Linked DNA regions of Homo sapiens: region 2 is linked to region 1. A link means that fine-mapping ties the variant in region 1 to the expression of a gene that starts in the linked region. Tissue or cell type: non-classical monocytes. Region 1 holds a variant in brackets; the other region holds the start of a gene. All regions are shown on one strand. Distances are from middle to middle.

What was found. PIP is the estimated chance that this variant, and not a neighbour inherited with it, causes the effect.
Region 2: PATL2 starts here. The variant in region 1 is fine-mapped to the expression of PATL2 in non-classical monocytes (Schmiedel 2018, PIP 0.95).

The regions. Positions count from the first base shown.
Region 1 is chr15:45,236,604-45,244,867 of GRCh38, reverse strand. No RefSeq gene overlaps it. Among named protein-coding and RNA genes, the nearest start is that of SLC28A2, 11 kb to the left of the region's middle. The variant A/G (reference allele first, on the strand shown) is at 4,796.
Region 2 is chr15:44,706,995-44,714,994 of GRCh38, reverse strand. PATL2 (PAT1 homolog 2) reads left to right here and starts at 3,672. Exons shown (of 18, transcript NM_001387263.1): 1 at 3,672-3,975; 2 at 4,066-4,124; 3 at 4,781-4,899. B2M (beta-2-microglobulin) reads right to left here and starts at 3,478. Exons shown (of 4, transcript NM_004048.4): 1 at 3,382-3,478. The coding sequence starts at 3,448. RefSeq lists an enhancer at 2,995-3,657.

The DNA.
Region 1 (8,264 bases):
ACTCCTGACCTCAAGGCTGGTCTTGAACTCCTGAACACCCACCTTGGCCTCCCAAAGTGCTGGGATTGCAGGTGTAAGCCACCTTGCCCTGCCTGTTAAAGCAACTTTAAAACTAAGGAGATAGTTTTCCTTATCATTTTTAAGTTTAAAGACTCATAAATGCAGTTAATTATACAAAATTAACTACATCATTCTACTAAAAGTATACACTAAAACCATCATCATAGCTTCCAACTACAGTTGACCCTTGAACAGCACGGATTTGAATTGTGTGGGTCTGCTTACATGCAGATTTTCTTCTGCCTCTGCCGCTCCTCAGATAGCAAGACCAACCCCTCCCCTTCCTTCTCCTCCTCAGCCTATTTGATGTGAAGACAATGAGGATGAAGACCTTTAAAATAATCCACTTATTATATGGAGAATTTAAAATAATTAAGATTAACATGTTAAAGGCTGTAGTGGAAAAGGAGGAAAACATGCATAAAGAGATGAGGACTGACTGGGCGACATGGCTCATGCCTGCAATCCCAATACTTTAGGAGGCCGAGGCAGGCAGATCACTAGAGGTCAGGAGTTTGAGATCAGCCTGGCCAACATGGTGAAAGCTCACCTCTACTAAAACTACACAAAAATTAGCCAGGCATGGTGGCACGTACCTATAGCCTCAGCTACTTAAGAGACTGAGGCAGGAGAATCACTTGAACCTGGGAGGTGGAGGTTGCAGTGAGTCAGGATTGTGCCACTGCACTCCAGCCTGGGCAACACAGTGAGACTCCATCTCAAAAAAAAAAAAAAAAAAAAAAAAAAAAAAAAAAAAAAAAGACTGTCAGGAGAGAAGAAAACTATAAGAAAGGACCAAATGAAAGTGCTAAAAATAAAAAAACATGGTAACAAATATGAAGAATAGCTCTGACAGGCTTATTGGCAGACTCAGCTTAACTAAGAAGAGAATCAGTGAACTTAAAAACAAGTCAAATCCCAGTGTCATGGTGCACATCTATATTCTCAGCTACTTTGGAGGCTGAGGTGGGAGGATTGTTTGACCCTAGGAGTTCTATCTTCCCCTTTTATCTCTTCTTTCTGGGACTCAAATTAAATGTACACCAGGCCACTTAATGATATTTCATGAATCTCTAATATGGTGTTCTCGCTGTTTCTTCCAGTCTTTTTTTCTCTGTATCTTTCAGTTTGATTTTTCTTCTATGATGTCTAAGCTGCTATTAATCCTATCCAGTGTACTTTTCATTTCAGATGTTGTATTTTTCATATTCAGAGGTTCTATTTCTTTTTTTCTTTCTTTTTTTTTTTTGAGGTGGAGTCTCACTCTGTCGGCCAAGCTAGAGTGTAATGGCATGATCTCGGCTCACTGCAACCTTTGCCTCTGGATTCAAGTGATTCTCTTGTCTCAGCCTCCCAAGTAGCTGGGATTACAGGCACACACTGCCATGCCCAGCTAATTTTTTGTATTTTTAGGGATGGGGTTTCACTATGTTGCCCAGGCTGGACTCGGACTCCTGAGCTGAGACAATCCACCCACCTCAGCCTCCCAAAGTGCTAGAATTATAGGCATGAGCCACCACACCTGGCCCAGAGTTCTATTTCAAATCTCTTTTTATGTCTTTCATTTATATCTCCATCAAGCTCATTACTTCCTCTACCTTCTTTAACATAAGTTAATGTATAAGGGATGTATTAAAATACCTGTTTTAGCTGGGTGCAGTGGCTCACACCTGTAATCCCAACACTTTGGGAGGCCTAGGAAGGTGGATCACCTGAGGTCAAGAGTTCGAGACCTGTGAGAAAGAGAGTTTCTGAGGTGCCAGTTGAGTTGGACTCCCCTGTGTGAGACACACATGGGAAGCCATGGGCGGCCTCTGAGGAGAAAAGTCTCCTTATTGCCTTCATGTCTTTATGCCCGAAGAGCATAACTGCTCAGTGGCATTCCACAGGTTGCTCAGGGAGATAACACTCCCTTGAAGCAGTGGAGTATAATCAAACATCTTGGCTCCTCCTGAAACCTGCTCCAACCCATTTCAGTCCCGATAAGTTCAAGATCTTAAGTAGTTTAGACACACGCCTTTGTTCAAGGAAATTCACAGAAACCGCCACTGCTATACATCTTATCGAATGACTCATGAGTTCTCCTTCACTGATTAATCCTTTTCCTCATCCCTTCCTCCCCCTCCCATCTGCCCTAAGAACAAAGAGCTTGTAAACCGATAAATTGGGGCAGAGCCTGAGAGCTCTGGGCTGTGAGCAAGCCTCCGATGCTCCAGTCCCCTGGACCCGCCTTTTAAACGCTATTCTGTCTCTTTCTAACTCCTTTGTTTCCTCTAGACTCAGTGTACCCGCTGGGTGATGTGGGGCTGGTTTCCCCAACATCTGGCGCCCAACATGGGGCTCCCCATAATCTCTACAAATAATCCAGTGAAGAAACGCCAGAGTGTGGAAAGTGGAGGACGACTGATGAAGGATGCCTGAGTACGTTTTTACTTCAGGCTCTATGGGTAAGTAGGGCACTTGGAGAATTCCAGGGTAACCTCAGGAAAATATGGGTCAGGCTGAAAGTAAGTTTGTTAATTACTTAAGCCTGGTGCGGCAGTTATTGTGCCGTGGTGGGGGGTAATTGTGAGTACCCAAAATCTCACATCTTTGTTCCATCTCGTAGAAAAGTATTCTCCTTGGTTCCTGGAATATGGAACCATGAATGTAAAAGATTGGGACAAGGTTGGATCAGACTTAAAACGAGCACAACAAGAGGGCCACGATATTCCTTTCTCCGCTTGGTCTGTGTGGTCAGCAATTAAAACAGCACTAGAGCCCTTCCACGCTGAGGAGGAGAAGGAGTTTCAGGATGACATAGAAAAGTTTAATAATCAGGATTCTGATGATCAGCAAAGTGAACCATCACAGTCTAATTTTAAAAAGGGGAAGAAACAGGAAGCTATATATGCTAACCTCCAAAAACTTATGAAAGAAACAGTTCCACCTACTGCAGAAATAGTGCCACCTACTGTGCCTTTAGGGGAAGGTCCGGAATGGCCACCCCCACCTCAGCCTTATGAATTTTTGAAATGAGAGCCTGAGATGCAGCTTGTCACTCCCATTGTTGCACGCCCCACCATTAACTGTGGCAAAGGGAAGCTTCAGGCTGGCCCAACAGCCAATTACAGTGAGGGAATGATCCAGGCTTGTCCACCTGTTAATTATAGTAAAGGAATGCTGCAAGCCGGCCCAAATACAAATTATGGCACAGGGACAATCCAGGCATCCATTCGCCAGGGATGAGAAATCAGGGATTTGGATGCTTGGCAGTTTCTGGTAATTATTTCGCCAGCTGAGGAGCCCAGAGAACATGCCCAAGCACGCTAGGAGCCATTTCCTTTTAAAATATTAAAAGACTTAAAGCAAGCAATAGGACAATATGGGCCGAATTCTCCTTATGTTCATTCCTTGTTACAATCTGTGGCTTATAACAGGTGTTTAATACCTATGGATTGGGAGTCATTAGCCCAATCCACCCTATCCCCCTCTCCATTTCTGCAATTTAAAGCCTGGTGTACAGATGAAGCAACAAATCAGGCATGCAGAAATGCTCAAGCTCAACCTCCCATTAATATCACATCTGATCAATTGCTTGGAATCGGACAGGCATGAGGTACTATAAATCAACAGATGGTAATGGGTGATGAGGCTGTTGATCAGCTCAGAAGTATATGCCTAAGAGCCTGGGAAAAAATTCATGACCCTGGTACTACTTATCCTTCTTTTAACTCAGTTCGACAGGGTCCAAGGGAGCCTCATCCAGATTTTATCGCCCGTTTGCAAGACACAGCTCAAAGGCTATTTTGGATTCTCATGCCAGGAAAGTTCAACTGCTTGCTTATGAAAATGCTAATACAGAATGTCAGGCAGCAATTAGACCTATTAAGGGAAAGGCAGATCTAAATGAGGAAAAAACTTTAAGTGAATACATTAAAGCCTGCAGTGGCATTAGGGATCACTTATATAAGGCCATCCTCCTTGCTCAGGCAATGGCTGGACTAAGGGTAACAAAAAACACACGAGTGTTCCCTGGATCTTGATATAATTGTGGACAGATAGGACATACAAAAAGAGAATGTAGAAAGAGCCAAAAAAGGCAAAACTCAGGAGGAAAAAGCAGGGAACCAGGGACCTGTCCTAGATGTAAAAAAGGAAAACACTGGTCTAATCAATGTCATTCAAAGTTTGATAACAGAGGACAGCCCTTGCCAGGAAGCAGACAGAGGGGCCAGCCCTGGGCCCCGATTCAAAATGGGGCATTCCCAATTCAGGATGGGACATCCCTGACTCCAAACAGAGTGTTCCTGGCCCAGCCTATCCCTGTACAAATGTACAGCAATTGTCCCCCTCCACAGCTAAAAGCAGGGCAGTAGATTTATGCTGTACGGAAGCTGTATCCCTCCTTCCTGAGGAGCCTCCTAGGAAGGTCTCAATGGGAGTTTATGGCCCATTGCCAAATGTCACAGTGGGACTTATACTGGGAAGGTCCAGCTTAAACTTAAAAGGAATTCAAGTACATACTGGAGTAGTGGACTCTGATTGCCAGGGAGAAATTCAAATTGTTATCTCCTCCACTGTTCCCTGGAGTGCTAATCCAGGTGACAGAATAGCTCAAATGTTGCTTTTACCATATGTTAAGTTAGGAGAAAGCTCAGAAAAAAGAACAGGAGGATTTGGAAGCACGAATTCAGCAGGCAAGGCTGCCTATTGGGTAAATCAAGTCTCTGACAATAGTCCTATTTGTATGGTC[A/G]CTATTCAAGGAAAACAATTTGAGGGTCTGGTCGACACAGGAGCAGATGTGTCGATCATAGCTCTTTATCAATGGCCAAAAAACTGGCCCAAACAAAAGGCCCCAGTGGGTCTTGTTGGGGTCAGAACTGCTTCAGAAGTTTTCCAAAGTACTTTTATCTTACCGTGTCTTGGTCCAGAAGAACAGGAAGGCACAATACAACCTCTAATTACATCCATTCCTGTTAACTTATGGGGGAGAGATCTGCTTCACAAATGGGGCAGAGAAATTTCAATCCCTTCTCCCTGGTATGGTCAAGCCAGTCAAAAAATAATGTCAAACATGGGCTATGTTCCTGGAAAAGGCCTAGGAAAACAGGAGATGGGCATTACTGAACCCATACAGGTTACTGTAAAAAATGACTGAACAGGATTAGGTTACCATTTTTAGGGGCAGTCACCGTTGAGCCTCCAAATCCTATTCCCTTAAAATGGAAGACCCAAAATCCTGTTTGGGTCAAGCAGTGGCTGCTTTCTCAGGAAAAATTGGGGGCCTTACAGGAATTAGTCAAAGAGCAATTAAACAAAGGAAACATTGAGCCCACATTTTCTCCATGGAATTAGCCAGTGTTTGTAATAAATAAAAAAATGCAGCAGATGCCACATGCTAACCGACTTACAAGTGGTCAGTGCAGTCATCCAGCCAATGGGGTCCCTGCAGCCAGGGCTTCCATCCTTCACCATGATTCCTAGAGACTGGCCATTAATAATTATAGATTTGAAGTATTGCTTTTGTAATATTCCTCTAGCAGAGTCTAATTTTGAGAAATTTGCTTTTACTATTCCTGCTATGAACAAACAACAGGGAACCAGCAGCCAGATATCATTGGAAAGTCCTGCTGCAGGGTAGGTTGAATAGTCCTACTATTTGTCAAACTTTTGTGGGGAAGGCTACTCAACCTGTGAGAGATCAGTTTCCCGATTCGTATATCATTCATTATATGGATGACATATTGTGTGCAGCCGAAAATCAAGACCAACTTATCCAGTGTTATTCATATTTACAGGAGGTGGTAGCCAGTGCTGGATTGTTCATAGCACCAGATAAAATTCAAACGGTCACTCCTTTCCAATATTTGGGAATGCAGGTTCAGGAAAGGGCAATTAAACCCCAAAAGGTTCAAATTCGAAAAGACTCTCTGAAAACTTTAAAGGATTTTCAAAAATTACTAGGGGATATCAATTGGATTTGACCTACTTTGGGAATCCCTACCTATGCTATGTCTAATCTGTTCTCTATTTTAAGAGGAGACCCTGCTCTCAATAGTAAACAAGAACTGACTCCTGAGGCTGCCAAAGAATTACAAATGATTGAAGAAAAAATACAACAGGCCCAGGTTAATAGAATAGACTCAAGTTTACCATTATAGTTCATTGTGTTCCCTACTTTCCATTCTCCTACAGGGGTTATAGTTCAGAGTGAGGACTTAGTTGAATGTTCTTTTCTGCCTCACAATACTGTTAGAACACTCACAGTATACTTGGACCAGATCGTAATCTTGATTGGACAAGCTCGCCTTAGAGTTGTTAAACTTTGTGGCTCAGATCCAGATAAGATTATAGTTTCAATGAATAAAAATCAGATTCAGCAAGCCTTTCTTAATTCAGTCAATTGGCAAATAAATTTAGCTGGCTTCACTGAAGTTCTTGACAATCATTATCCAAAAAACAAAATTTTTCAGTTTTTAAAGCTAACAACATGGGTCCTTCCAAAAATTACCCATAGTACTCCATTGGAAGGAGCAGTGACTGTGTTTACAGATGGCTCTAGCAATGGAAAAGCAGCTTATGTTGGACCTAAAAACAGAATTATTCAAACTGACTTTGAATCAGCACAGAGGACTGAATTACAGGCAGTTATAGCTGTGTTAGAAGACTTTAAGCAACCTGTAAATATTGTCTCTGATTCAGCTTATGTTGTTCAAACCACTCAATACATATAAACTGCACTCACTAAATATCTTGCAGATGAACAACTCTATCAGCTGTTTTCTTCTTTACAAAAGGCAGTGCATGATCGCTGTTTTCCTTTCTATATTATGCACATTTGAGGACACATTAATCTCCCAGGGCCACTTGTAAGGGCTAACTATCAAGCTGATTTGCTAGTTTCCACTGTGCTTACTAATGCCCAAGATTTTCACTCCCTAACACATGTTAGCAGCAGGACTTAAACAAAAATGTCAGATTACTTGGAGACAGGCAAAGGACATTGTGCAACATTGCCCTCAGTGCCAGGTACTACAACTGCCACGTGAAGGGACTGGTGTTAATCCGTGGGGATTAACCCACAATATGTTGTGGCAAATGGACGTAACCCATGTACCTTCATTCAGGAAACTTTCATACGTCCATGTTACTATAGATACCTTTTCTCATTTTGTATGGGCAGCTTGCCAAACAGGTGAGGCAGCTGCTCATATTAAAAGACATTTACTTTTTTGTTTTGCTGCCATGGACATCCCACAAAAGATTAAAACAGACAGTGGCCCAGGCTACTATAGTAAATCTTCACAAGCGTTTCTTCAACAATGGCACATTGAGCACAGTAGTGGAATACCCTGTAATTCTCAAGGCCAAGACATTGTTGAACAGGCTAATCGAACCTTAAAATCTCAATTACAAAAACAAAAGACAGAGGGGGGAACCAGAGAACACTCTACTCTCCATATGCAGCTATAATTGGCTCTTATCACTTTAAATTTTTTGAATTTGTCTAGAGATCAGGTTACAACGGCAGCAGAGCAGCATTTGACAGGACAAAAAATAAATCCTCATGAAGGAAAACATGTAGTGGAAGGACGTCAGAACCAAACTTGGGAAAAGGGCAAAATCATTACATGGGGTCGAGGGTTTTGCTTGTATCTTGCCAGGAGAGAATCAGCTTCCTGTCTGGGTACCCACAAGACATCTTAAGCTGTGCCATGAGCCAGAATCCAAGGAAGAGGAAAAGACCTCGGAATGTCCCTGCACCCCTGGTTCATCAGATGGCTCAGATGAACATCTCTGTTGAGCAGATGGAAACCAGTAAAACTTGCCAAGCAACTCCACCGACCTGTGGGCAGATGAGGAGACTAGCTCACATTGCAGACGAGAACCTGAGGTCTCAGAACAAGCTGCTGACCACCAGTAATCTAATGATAGCTATGATGGCAGTAATCTCCTTGGCGGTGAGTCTCCCCGTAGCTGGGGCAGATCAAAATTACATTTATTGGGCCTACATTCCATTCCCCCACTGATTAGGTCTGTTACATGGTTAGACCCCCTGGTGGAGGTTTATATTAATGATAGTGTCTGGATGCCTGGACCAACAGATAACCGAGGTCCTACTCATCCAGAGGAGGAAGGAATGTTAATGAATGTTTCCATTGGTTATCGCTTTCCTCCCATCTGCCTGGGGCCAGCAGCAGGATTTTTAAATTATGATAAAC
Region 2 (8,000 bases), 530 kb after region 1:
ATAGCCCCCATCAAATTACTCATGTTATTGTACTCTGTTTCCACCCCTTCCATTTTTTTTCTTATGTTTATGCCTTTCTTTTTGGTTCCTGCTCCTGCCTTGATCTACACCCATCTGATTTTCTAAACTGTATGAAGTGTCTAGTAGAGTGCCTGGGACATAGCAATTGCTCTATACGTGGCAGATGTTATTATCTGAGGTTCCTAAGTGGATCAACCCAAGGTATGTTCTTTATTTTTTTATTTTTTTATTTTTTGGGATGGAATCTCATTCCATTGCCCAGGCTGGAGTGCAGTGTGCAGTGGTGAGATCTCAGCTCACTGCAACCTCCGCCTCCTGGGTTCAAGTGATTCCTGGGACTACAGGCACACACCACCATGCCTGGTTAATTTTTGTATTTTCAGTAGAGACGGGATTTCACCATGTTGGCCAGGCTGGTCTTGAACTCCCAACTTCAAGTGATCAGCCTGCCTTGGCCTCCCAAAGTGTTGGGATTACAGGCACGAGCCACCGTGCCCAACCAACCCAAGGTATGTTCTTACCAAACAACAAAACCTCTTTATTTCTGCTGAGGTTTTATATGCCAGACCCCTCTCTGACTTTGTACCTAATTTCATGAGCTAAAAAACAAAGAAACAAAACCTAAATGCATACAAGAGCTGGCAAATACCTTAAATGGTTGAGTTGGACCCGATAAAATACAACAGGGATAGGTGAGGACTATGGCAAATGGGACAGAACATACTTTCCATTATGATCAAATGGAGTAATGCATGTGACAGTGGGATTTGCGTTTTAATTAGCATCCACAGGTGATTGCTGTAAACTAGCCAGGTTGGGAATATATTGCCTAATGTTTCAGAAACAGTACTTTCCAAAATGAGAGGCATGACTAGACCATCCATGGGGAAGTGGGAAGAAAATATTATAAACTCTATATTTTTCATTGAAAATGAAGAGAAGTGTTAGTGCTACTAAATATACAGATTGACACTAAATATATGTGTATAAAATTCTTTTAAATACACTTATATTCAGGGTACATGATCACTAAAAGGCAGCTACTCCTCCTTGTCTGGGAGGCTGTGGGGAGAAGGAGGAGTACCAGGCCACCTTGACCAGATATATCTCTCTAGAAACACCCTATCATTAAGGAAAGGCTACTAGCCCCATCAAGAGGTGGATTGGGGAATCTAATGAAGACCTGATTTTTTTCATAACATTAAAAGCTAAGAGAGCTCTTTGCATCTGAGCTTCTAATAATAAGAACATATTAAATGCCTCAGGGATCAGAGCACAGATTCATCCTGCCTGGAACTCTCTGTTTGAGGGAAGGCGGCAAGATTTTGTGAGAGCATCACTGTAATCTTTTCTAAGAAGAGGACAAGTATCAGACAGGCTGGGTTTGAATTTGGGCTCAACCAGTTACTGGCTTTATGACTTTTGGAGAGTTATTTAAGCTTCCAAAACTTAACTGAAAAATTAATTTATGCCCACAGTAAAACAAAAACAAAACCCACACACAGGTCAGAGGAGGAAAATAGACCTTCAGAGGCAATCATCATTACATGTTTCTTGTGGTATCTTCCAGAAATGGTCTATGCATGGCATGTATTACTTTGGAAATTTTCAAAATAAGATTTTTTTTTAAATATCAGATTGTTATTTTTTAAAATGACATCTAACATAACCAGCAAATACCAGTAATGGTGGTGATATATACATTATCCTTTATGTTGTAAATAAATTGTATTCAAATTAAATGCAATTTTCTCATGATCAAAACATTCTGCTTTCGATCATGTTTTGCCAGAGGAAAAGGTGAGCGCGCTTAGTGTATTGCCAGGTACTTAGAAAGTGCTCAAGATCTCTGGCGTCCTCAACAGTCTTGGTAACCATCTTGGATTATCTTTATTAATGGTTTTACAGCTCCCCTGACTGACAAACCTTCACTTCTTTCTTTCTTTTCTTTTCTCTTTCTTTTTTTTTTTTTTTCTTTTTTGAGAGACAGGGTCTCGCTCTGTTGCCCACGCTGGAGTGCACTGGCGCCATGATAGCTCAAAAGCCTAAGCTCAAGAGATCCTCCCGCCTCAGCCACCGGAGCAGCTGGGACCACAGGCACGAGCCACCACACCCGGCTAATTTTTGTTATTATTTTTTGTAGAGACCAGGCTTCACCATGTTGGCCAGGCTGGTCTCAACTACGGACCTCAAGCCATCCTCCCGCCTCGGCCTCCCTAAGTGCTGGGATTACAGGCGTAAGCTACCACGCCCAACCCCCTCATGTTTTCAAAACCGAAAGTAAGAGGCACAGTACATCTTGGAAACAACCAGGCAAAGAGCCAAAGAGGAAGCCCTCTGTACGAAAAGACCACAGGGCCCATGCCGCCCAGTTTGCTCTGGAGAATCTCACGCAGAAGGCAGGCGTTTTTCTTAAAAAAAAATGCACGAATTACAGCCAAAAGGCATGCGCTCCCGCAAAAGCCCTGGTTAGGCTTGACTTCAATCTCGATTGCTGCCATTTATCCCCTGTGTAATTAAGTTTCTTAAAATCTCGGTGCCTTAGTTTCTTCATCTGTGAGAGGCAGAAGATAACCATAGTAGTTATCTATGGCGGAAGATAACTGTTTTCAAAATTAAATGACGCAAAGCACATAAAGTCCTTGGCACACAGAAAGATGTCAATAACGGGTAGTTCTTATAATTTTTTAAAAGTGACATGTGATGGGAACAAATAAGTTAATTATTCGAAACCGCTTTGTATCACAGCCAAGCATTCTACAAACGTCGCGTGCTGTTTCCTCCCCACGGTGTGGCCCCACATAGACCCAGAGGTGCTAGGACATGCGAACTTAGCGGGCGCCTAGACGAAGTCCACAGCTCTCCAGTCTAAGGGAAGCAGAGCCGCAGCAGACAGGCTTACCCGGGCGACGCCTCCCCCAGACCCCAAGCGCCCCTCCACGCGTTCACAAACCTCAGCGCCGCGCCTTTGGGACGAGCCTACCCGTCCCCCACTCCAGCTGCGCTGGGGGAGCCAGAGGCCCCGCGAAAGAGCGGAAGAGAAACCCTCCCCCAACCTCGGCGCTCTGACGCTTATCGACGCCCTAAACTTTGTCCCGACCCTCCCGTCGCCGTAGGCCAAAGGTCTCCCCTGCTCCCCGCCGAAAGGGGCAAGTAGCGCGCGTCCCGGGTGCGCACCCCCTTCCCCACTCCCAGGCCACCCCGCCGCTTCCCCGAGATCCAGCCCTGGACTAGCCCCACGGCGGGCCACCAAGGAGAACTTGGAGAAGGGAAGTCACGGAGCGAGAGAGCACAGCGAGGGCCACAGAGGGTGCAGAGCGGGAGAGGAAGGACCAGAGCGGGAGGGTAGGAGAGACTCACGCTGGATAGCCTCCAGGCCAGAAAGAGAGAGTAGCGCGAGCACAGCTAAGGCCACGGAGCGAGACATCTCGGCCCGAATGCTGTCAGCTTCAGGAATGCCCGCCAGCGCGACGCCTCCACTTATATTAAACGCGTGCCCAGCCAATCAGGACAAGGCCCGCAGGGACCGTCACCTGTCTCCAAGCCAGCGACGCAGTGCCAGGTTAGAGAGAGGGACTTTCCCGTTTTCAGTTTCCTTTTCTTAGAGTCTCGTGATGTTTAAGAAGGCATGCACTAGACTGGGTGAGTTTGCTGTCTGTACATCGGCGCCCTCCGATCTGGGGTGCGCGCCCCAGCTTGGGACACCGGGCGCTCATTCTAGGACTTCAGGCTGGAGGCACATTAAGGCTGCCCCCTCGCTTTGCAGACTGGCCCCAGAGATGCTAAGTGACTTGCTAATGGTGCCCCAGCCAGTTAACTGCTCGGACCTGCATTTTTCATTCGAGAAAACGGAAACCCAGAAGATTAAGATCTTTGAATGCTACCTAGCAGAAGGAGAACTTCTGTTTATAACTACAGCTTGGGAATTCCCTGCAGGGTTTCTCCATTCTCTGGGTAAGAAAAATAGTCCCAAAAGCATCCTGAGGACAGCTCAGAGAAGGTCCTAGTGAAAGAGTACCTTTCTTGCTTCTTGTATCCCTTCAGGAAAAAGTGTTTGGAAAGTTCTGTGCCAAGAAGTTCCTCCCTATGTCCTTGCTGTTTAGGTAATTTTCTTTGTTCTGTTGATTTGTCGGGGGGCGGGGGGGAGAAAAAAACGACCACTAATAGTAAAAGCAGTAACTGCTAGGGCTTTAGAGCTTCCAGCGCCCTCTAGGTACATCATTCTCTTAGTTTCCACCCTAGAACAGGGGCTGGCACATAGTAGGTACTCAGTAAACCGAATGAACGAATGGATGGATGAATGAATGAATTAGTGAATATATAAATAAACTGTAGGAGGAAAGAATTACCCCCATTCATTTTATGGACAGGGGAAACAAAGGCTAAGAGACTAGAATTCAAACTCTGGCCTGATTCCATTGACATTAATATTTTAGACACTGGAAGACAAAGGGCTCGGCAATTTTAGTGAGAGTTTGGACTGCATCTGCCTTGGACCCAGCCAAGGACGTTAAACATGACAGGCAGACCCATTAAGAAAACCTACCCTCTAAAGTGACCATAAATAAGGTGCCGCCATTTCGTGGTGGTGGAGTCCACAGATCTTTTCTAAGAGGAACAGTGAGAAGAGGAAGTGGACCATGGCGATGGGGAGGGGCAGAGATCTTGGAAGTCACCATGGTTTTCAGTTGAAAGGATTTGCCTAGCTTCCCCAAGGAGCACAACAAATAACTTCTAGGTTTCTTTTACATATTTTTAGGCTTTTGATAATCTTTATTGTGGAGGCCATGCCTAAACTAAGAAAATGCAATACTCTCCATGGACCTAATGAAATGAGATAATGCACAAGAGAGAGCCTCCCACAATGCCTGGTACATAGTAAGTGTTCTGTAGTGTTTAATAAGCGCTATAATTATTAATATTATTTACCTAGTTTTTCTACCAGCCCTCTCAATAACTAAAATATGAGAATAATTGTTATGCCTAAATGTATGAGTTAAGACACTCTTGCTCCCTCCCTTTTCCCCCTTTTAAAAACTCATATAAGGCACTAAAGGCCTGAAATGTTAGTGTTGAGTTGTACTAGAAAAGTGCCTTAGAAGTTTAGCAAGGGACAGGGCTATTTTTGCCTCTAGTTTCTTGTTTACTACATCACAGAGAAACACTAAATTTAAAATCCATTACAGATAGATTCTGATTTACTCACTTGGAAAACCAATTTAAAAACCAATAAAAAACAGTACAGATAGAAAAAAGTCGATTTTACAGTTTTCTTTGGGGGGGAATACCTGTATTTTTCTTGGACTTACCATTTATGACATGTTTTGAATAGTGAGGGGGAAAATTATGTATACAACTATTTGTTTAAAAACAAGAGCACTGTTTGCCTAGGATGGCAAATTTGGGAAGTCTACAAACATGACAATTTCTTTTTTTTTTAATTTTTAATATTTTTGTGGAGACAGAGTCTTGCTGTGTTGCCCAGGCTGGTCTCGAACTCCTGGTCTCAAGTGATCCTCCTTCCCCAGCCTCCTAAAGTGCTAGGATCACAAGCATGTGTTACCACGCCCAGCCACAAATATGACAGTTTAATAGCTTTATCTCCCAGTAGTGCAATTAACAGATTAATAGCGGCCTTTTTTTCCCCTATATAACCCTCTTAAAATTTTTTTACAATGAACATTTATTCAAAGTAGTAAATGTTGGCAAGAATTTAGAAGAACTGGAACTCTCATACAATCCTGGTAGGAATATAAAATGGTATAAACAATTTGGGGCTGGATGTGGTGGCTCACACCTGTAATCTGAGCACTTTGGGAGGTCAAGGCGGGCAGATCACTTGAGATCAGGAGTTTGAGACCAGCCTGGCCAACATGGTGAAACCCTGTCTCTACTAAAAATACAAAAATTAGCTAGGCATGGTGGCAGGCATCTGTAACCCCAACTACTCAGGAGGCTGAGGCAGGAGAATTGCTTGAACCTGGGAGGCAGAGGTTGCAATGAGCCGAGATTGCACCACTGCACTCCAGCCTGGGCAACAGAGCAAGACTTCATCTCAAAAAGAAAAAAGAAAAAGGAAAACACTTCGACAGCTCTTTATAAAGTTAAACATACACTGGCCATAATATCCAGCCACTCCACCCAAGGTATTTGCCCAAGAGAAAATGAAAGCATATGTCTATACAAAGACTTGGACATTAATGTTTAATGTTTATAGCAGTTTTATTTGTGATAGCTGAAAACTAGAAACGATCCAACATACATCAACAGGTAAATGAATAAACCCATTGGAGTATATATCCATACAATGAAATACTATCATCAACAAACAAGGAATAAACTGTTGATACATGTAACATGGATGAAATAATCATGGTAAATAAAAGAAGTCAGACAGAAAAGAACATATACTATATGATTCTGTTTATATAAAACTCCAGAAAAGGCAAACTATAATCTATATGACAGAAAGTAGATGAGTGGTTTCTAGAGGGAAAGGAGATCATCTAAACATGAGGAAACTTTAGGGTTGATGGATATGTTAATTATCTAGAGTTCGATGATGATTTCAGTTATATTTTAGAACTTATTGTATACTTTAAGTGTAATATATTGTATGTCGATTATAAATATTTAAAAGGACATAGCTAGGGGAGGTGGAGCAAGATGGCTGAATAGACGCCTCCACTAATCCTGCTCCCTGCAGGAACACCAAATTGAATAATGATCCACACAAAAAAAAGCACCTTCATAAGAACCAAAAATCAGGTGAGTGATCACAGTACCTGGTTTTAACTTCGTATCACTGAAAGAGTAACTGAAGAGGGTAAGACAGTCTTGAATTGCTAAATGCTATCTCTCCCCCATTCGCCGGCAGCGGCCACCTGGCATGGAGAGAGAATGTGTGCTTCTGGGAGAGGAAGAGTGCAGTGATTTTCAGACTTTGCATTGGAACTCAGTGCTGCCCAGTCATAGCACAAAGCAACACTGGGAAGAACTCACCCAGGTCCCATGGAGGGATCATTTAGACCAGCCCTAGCTAGAGGCAAATCACCCATCCCAGCAGTGGGAACCTGAGTTCCAGTAAGCCTCCCCACCATGGGCTGAAGTGCTCTGAGGTTCTACATAAACTTGAAAGGCAGTCTAGGCCACAAGGATGGCAATTCCTGGGTAAGTCCTGGTGCTGTGCTGGGCTCAGAGCCAGTGAATGTGGGGGGCACACAACCTAGTGAGACACTAGCTGGGATGGCCAAGGGATTGCTTGCACCACCCCTCTCCCAACCCCAGGCAGGGCAGCTCAAAGCTCAGAGAGAGACTTCTTTCCTCTGCTTGAGAAGAGGAGAGGGAAGAACAAAGATGAGTTTGTCTTGCATTGGATACCAGCTCAGCTGCAGTAGGATAGGGCACCAGGCAAAGTCCTGAGGCCCACATTCCAGGCCATAGCTCCAAGCTGACATTTCTAGCCACACCCTGGGCCAGAAGGGAACCTGCTGCCTTGAAGGGAAGGACCAGTCCTGGCAGGATTCCTCACCAGCTGACTAAAGAGCCCTTTGGCCCTGAATAATCAGAAGTAGCCAGGTAGTACTCATCATGGGCTTTGGGTGAGACTCAGAGACGTGCAGGCTTAAGGTGTGACCCAGCACATTACAGCTGTGGTGGCTATGGGGAGAAATTCCTTCTGCTTGAGAAAAGAAGTGGAAAGAGTAAAGGGGACTTGGCCACTGTGGGGTTAGAATACCAAGTGGCCTCTTAAGGTCCCTGATTCCAGGCTTTGGCTCTTAGATAGCATTCCTGGACCTGCTCTGGGCCAGAGGGGAGCCTGCTTCCCTGAAGGGTGAGTCCCAGGCTGGGCAGCGTTCACCACAAGCTTACTGCAGAGCCCTTGGGCCTTGAGTATACATCAGCAGTAGCCAGACAGTACCCACCACAGGCCTGGGGTGGAAGTGGCCATGGCAAGAGACTCCTCAGCTTGTGGAAAG